Linked DNA regions of Homo sapiens. The protein of the gene in region 1 interacts with the protein of each later gene in a biochemical or structural test. Each region holds a gene or a part of one and is shown in the gene's direction. Other genes may lie near its edges.

The links. The genes of interacting proteins can lie anywhere in the genome.
Region 2: the proteins of ITGAV (region 1) and PXN form a complex in vitro, tested with the Homo sapiens proteins (one study listed by BioGRID).

Annotation. Positions count from the first base shown.
Region 1 is NC_000002.12:186,676,936-186,679,262, forward strand, and holds part of ITGAV (integrin alpha-V isoform 1 preproprotein), read left to right. Parts: intron 1-261; coding exon 262-357; 3' UTR 358-2,327.
Region 2 is NC_000012.12:120,213,669-120,217,322, reverse strand, and holds part of PXN (paxillin), read left to right. Parts: intron 1-206; coding exon 207-482; intron 483-741; coding exon 742-1,050; coding exon of another isoform or gene 1,051-1,393; intron 1,394-1,661; coding exon 1,662-1,763; intron 1,764-1,905; coding exon of another isoform or gene 1,906-2,049; coding exon 2,050-2,220; intron 2,221-2,324; coding exon 2,325-2,498; intron 2,499-3,105; coding exon 3,106-3,187; intron 3,188-3,332; coding exon 3,333-3,481; intron 3,482-3,654. UniProt on the Homo sapiens protein: Cytoskeletal protein involved in actin-membrane attachment at sites of cell adhesion to the extracellular matrix (focal adhesion). Recruits other proteins such as TRIM15 to focal adhesion.

The DNA of each region.
Region 1 (2,327 bases):
GTAAGTAACGGACTTAGAAAGAAGGAGAGAGGGAAAGCAGAAGAAAAGGGAAAGGGAAGAAGGAAAAGAAGAATGAAAAGTAAGGGAAGGAAGAAAGGGACTGTAATGATGATACTTGATGAGCATTACTTATTATATGAGGGAAGATAAATTTTATGAAATACAATTTAAATGTTCTTAGTGGTAATATAGTCACCCAAAAAATACTTTTCGTATTCTACACTGATGTGACAGTAATAATGGTTTTTCTTCAACTGACAGATGGGCTTTTTTAAACGGGTCCGGCCACCTCAAGAAGAACAAGAAAGGGAGCAGCTTCAACCTCATGAAAATGGTGAAGGAAACTCAGAAACTTAACTGCAGTTTTTAAGTTATGCTACATCTTGACCCACTAGAATTAGCAACTTTATTATAGATTTAAACTTTCTTCATGAGGAGTAAAAATCCAAGGCTTTACTGCTGATAGTGCTAATTGGCATTAACCACAAAATGAGAATTATATTTGTCAACCTTCTCCTTATAAATAAGTTCAGACATACATTTAATAACATAGGGTGACTTGTGTTTTTAGGTATTTAAATAATAAAATTTCAAGGGATAGTTTTTATTCAATGTATATAAGACAGGTAGTGCCTGATTTACTACTTTATATAAAATAGTACCTCCTTCAGTTACTGTTTCTGATTTAATGTACGGAACTTTATTTGTTGTTGTTGTTGTTGTTGTTGTTGTTGTTTTAAAGCAGTCCAAATTTGGACCTTAGCAATCATGTCTTTTGTATAGGTACTTAATGTTAATACATATTACACTACAGTTTACTTTTCAGAATACTAAAGACTTTATAACTGCATGAACTTGGATTTTTTTAATCACTCATATGGTAGAATTTTATAAACACATACATGATACCATCCAAATTCTTGCTTTTAATAACAAAGGTACAATATTTTGTTTTAGTATGAAAATCTGGTAGATCCTATTACACTTCTGTTTATATTAAATCCACAATATTTTATTACATTTTTAACTTGTATAAATTTTAGGTCAAATCCTTCAAGCCAACCTATACTAAAAATTAGTTCCATAATCACAAATGGCTCTTTTGTGTAATTGTTTAATTTCACCTGAATATCATAATGCTTAAAGCCATATGGAGTTGGAAATTATTTCCAAAGCATATTTATTCCATTGTTTTAGTCTGGCTATTTACAGTATAAAAAAAGCATTTTTATTAAAATACTGTGTAGTTCTTTGAGATAGTTGCTTATGCATATAGTAAGTATTACATTCTTAGAGTAGAGCAGAGTTTTTAGTTAGTATTAATTTATTTTCCTCCATTCATGTACTTTTCCTTATATTTCCAAAACTGTTACTGAGAATGGGTCAAGATCAGTGAGAAATCTTTACAGTTGACAGGAACCTGGACCCCTTACCCCAACTTTATGAGTAATGCTTGGAATAAAAACTCTTAAGGCAACTCACTGATTTACTTCTAGCAATAGCATGATGTTACAGGAATATTACCTCTGTTTAAGCAAGGTAATGTGTAAAATCAGTCTCGGCTGTCAGAATAACTTCTAAAAGGTATTTTTATAAGCAGTTCAAGTTACTGAAAACCTTTTAAACCTTTCTGAAGTTCGTTAGTATAAATTACTTTTCTAGGATTATTAATAAAAGCCACATAGGTGGCAAGTTGTAGTTTTATATGGCTCTGTAGAGTGGTGAACCTTCTAGAGGAATATATGATTTATTCACAGTTCCTCAAGGCCTGGGGATGATGATCAGTTATACCTATTTTTGTGCAATTACATCATGTTGTACATTAGAAATGGAGAGTTTAATAGCTCTTTAACTGCTGTCCTCATTAGGTAATGATAAATATTTCCCTTAAATAATTGACTATTTTGCTGTGTTTTAAAAATGATTGAAATTTATCTTGCCATATCTCATAATTTCATGCACAAGTTGACTGAGCTAATCTTGAGAATATATTCGTAAAATAGGAGCACATTTAGTTGAGGTATACAAGGTAGGACTCTAGACAAAACCTTCTATTTTAGCTTTAGTGAATTTCAAAAGTAATGGGTCTTGGAGTATAGATTTTTATTAGTAGCTTGAAAGAGCTTAATCATATGCAGTAAGTATTTTTATTACCAATAAATTTAAAATTTTTTAAGAAAAATATTTTTATCCTAGGGCCAAGTGTTGCCTGCCACCAATCAGTAAGTTAGTCTATAACAAATTTTACCCTAACAGTTTTACCACCTAGTAACAGTCATTTCTGAAAATATGTTGGATAGAAAGTCACTCTTTGGCAAAAGTGTTAG
Region 2 (3,654 bases), on another chromosome or scaffold:
GAGCCAGTCCGATCTGCCCCCTCCCCTTGCCTCTACCCACCTCCACCGGTCCAATCTGCCCCCTCCCCGTGCCTCCACCCACCTCCGCTTGGTTCTTTGGTGGTTTTCTTTTGTGCTCCCTCTCCTGAGGCATCTGAGTGTGGCCTGAGCAGCGTTGTGCAAGCTGGGAGTGGGACGGTGACAGCCTCCCCTCCCCCTCCCCCTAGATCCGATCTGTGATCAGGAGGAGCTGGGAGTCTGGCCACGCACACCCCATGTCCCGGGAGCCCTCCCCTCGCCGCCGGCTGGACCCTGCCACCTTGAGCAGGACCCCATCCCAGGAACAGCTCATCGCGGAGCTGCAGGGGCGGCTGGGCATCCAGCCTGAGGCAGAGGAGCCGGCGGAGGCGGCGGGGCCCTCTGCCCAGGACTGGCTGACCGAGGGCGTCATCATCACTGTGCAGCCACGTGGGAAGCGGGCCGGGGGGCAGCTCGTAGAGAAGGTGGCGAGGAGATGCCCATGGCTGGGGCTGGGCCAGAGCCAAGCACCTGGGGTCCGGGTTCTTCCCTGGCCCCAGTGCTGGCCGGAGGGGAGATCTGGGGAGAGGGTGGGGGTTTCTTGCCTCCTGTGACTTTGGAAGACTGGCCCCACTCTTGGTGCAGAGTGGGAAGGCCCAGGGGGAGCCTGGGGAGGTCCCGCCACCCCTGTGGGCTGAGCTGGCGATTTCTTCCTCATCGCTCTCCCTCCTTTCTTCTCCCCAGGTTGTCTTCCCTCCTGGCTCTCCCATTCCCCTGAGAAGAACCATCTCTGTCCTGGCTTCTCCTTCTGTCCCTTTGCTCCAGCATCGCACAGACGCCGCGGCCAGCAGCTCTTCTCCCCTGCCCAGCCTGCTCGCCTCCTCCCCCCTGGGGCCCTCAGCTTATACCTGTGGTTCTTCTGGGGTCCAGAGTGCAGGGGAAGAGCCCCATGATGAGGGGGTGCAGGGCCCTGCCCTTCCCATTCCTGCACCCCACACCATGAGGTCCGTGGGCTGCCAGACTGATGAGGACCCGCTCTTCCCCCCGATGCAGGCAGGCCTTAAAGGAGCCCCTCCCTTTCTGTCCCCTGTCCTAATGCCTGAGCCATCCCCCACTCTGCACACACACACGTGCACACACACATACACAGATACCCTCCATCCCTCCATCTACAAGCCCCAGCACAGTAACCACAGTCCTGCCGTAAACCTTGACCCCGGTCTTCCCCCACTCAGAAGGTCCGCTGCCCTCTTGCTTTTCTGTGGGTCCACCCATGTCTGCTCCTTCCTCGACTGGTCCTCAGTACTGCCCCGGGCTCCCATCGAGGAAAGAAGCCACTCCAGAAGGGAGACCAGAAACCTGTCTCCTCCCTTCCAGCCCCCAGGCCCAGCGCCCGGTGAGGCCTCATCACTGAGCCCGGCCACCTCCCCTTGCCATTTCCTCTGCCTTTGGTCGACTCCCCTCCCTGTCCTTCTTCCTTTCTCCCTAGGCCTCTCTCTCAGGGCTCTTTTTCTCCAGATTTTTTCCCCCAATTTTGGTCCTGCCGGTGGGGGAGAAACCCTCAGATCTCATCCTAGATTCCCTTTTAGTCCAGTGACAAGGTCTTGTATTCTTTCTTAATTTTTAAAAAAGATTTCTTACCCTCATCTCTTCCCCTATCTAAGATCCAGGGCCTGGAGCAAAGAGCGGATGGGGAGCGGTGCTGGGCGGCCGGCTGGCCTCGGGACGGCGGGCGGAGCAGCCCCGGAGGGCAGGACGAGGGAGGGGTCAGTGCCAAGGCTGGGCTGGGTGTCCTGCGTGTCGTGCTCTCCCTGGGCTTGGCCATGCCTGCTGGGTGCCCTCAGCCTTTCCGACCCTGGTGGGCCCCTCCGACCACCAGGAGTCCTGCTGACGTCACTCCCACTTTAGGGCTCCTGGCCCCTGGAGGAGGTTGTACTTCTTGTCTCCATCAGCTCATCTGTCCAGGAGGGAGAAAAGTACCCCCATCCCTGTGCTGCCAGACACCGTACCCCGAGCCTCAGGAGTCCTGACCAGCCCCCTCCGTGTCCACAGTTCATGGCCCAGGGGAAGACAGGGAGCAGCTCACCCCCTGGGGGGCCCCCGAAGCCCGGGAGCCAGCTGGACAGCATGCTGGGGAGCCTGCAGTCTGACCTGAACAAGCTGGGGGTCGCCACAGTCGCCAAAGGAGTCTGCGGGGCCTGCAAGAAGCCCATCGCCGGGCAGGTGATGAGGGGGAGTGGGCAGGGGTGTGGCCAGTGGACTCCTGCAGGGGTGGGGGTGCTCCGGGGCTGGCCTTGGCCCTGGACCGCATTCCATCTCCTCCTCAGGTTGTGACCGCCATGGGGAAGACGTGGCACCCCGAGCACTTCGTCTGCACCCACTGCCAGGAGGAGATCGGATCCCGGAACTTCTTCGAGCGGGATGGACAGCCCTACTGTGAAAAGGACTACCACAACCTCTTCTCCCCGCGCTGCTACTACTGCAACGGCCCCATCCTGGATGTGAGTTCCTCATCCGGCACCGCGCCCGCTTCCGCTCATTCCAGCTTCACCGCAGCCCTCTGAGGATGCAGGGGGTGCCGTGGGAGGCTCAGAGAGGTCACATGCCCGAGGCTCACAGGGCTAGGGAACAGTGGGGCCGGATTCACAGCCACACCTGAACCACAGCCTGTCCCGATGTGCATCGGGCAGCCCCACCTCCCTTCACCTCCCATCTCGATTCCTTTCTGTGGAGACTCCCAGGACTCAGGAGCCCTGAGGAGATAAATGGAGTTGGATGCCAGCGGCCTCACTCTCCCTCTCTGTGAACTTAGGAAATGCCTGGCCTCTCTGAGCCTATGTTTCTTCACTTATAAAATGGGAGTCATAGAACTTGTGCCCTCTACTTGGGGTGAGGAGTAGAGGAGAGGGTATGTGTCTGGCTTGTCCCATCCTGAGTAACTCTGAATTCTTAGAGGCATTCACAGCACAATTAGGAGAGACCCCCATCTTGGGAGTGTTTTGCTCTGTCTATGGCTATGAGCTGCGGGTGGAAGGACGGCCTTGCTGGGCGTCTCAGTTGTGAGATCTGCCCAGAGCTCAGCCTTGATCCCACATTTTGCTTTCACAGAAAGTGGTGACAGCCCTTGACCGGACGTGGCACCCTGAACACTTCTTCTGTGCACAGTGTGGAGCCTTCTTTGGTCCCGAAGGTACGGGCTGGACCGGCGGACTGACCCACCGCCTCTTAGGAGGGCCGGGGAGGTGGGGGTGGGAGACGCTGCTGAGGTTGGAGTCAGAGTGGCTCCACTTCTGGAAGCCGGAATGAACTGTGCCTCCAAAACCCCCGCTCCCCAGGGTTCCACGAGAAGGACGGCAAGGCCTACTGTCGCAAGGACTACTTCGACATGTTCGCACCCAAGTGTGGCGGCTGCGCCCGGGCCATCCTGGAGAACTATATCTCAGCCCTCAACACGCTGTGGCATCCTGAGTGCTTTGTGTGCCGGGTAAGGAGCCCCTGACCACATCTGGAGGGGCGAGGAGCAGGCAGTGGGGAGAGAGGGGTCTTCCTCATTGTGCTGTCTGGATCCAACTCAGAGGCCTCATTTGGGGTTATTAATTGGGGGAGCAGGCAGGGGATCTCCTTCCTCCAGTCCAGTAGGTCCTGGGCCAGGGTTTG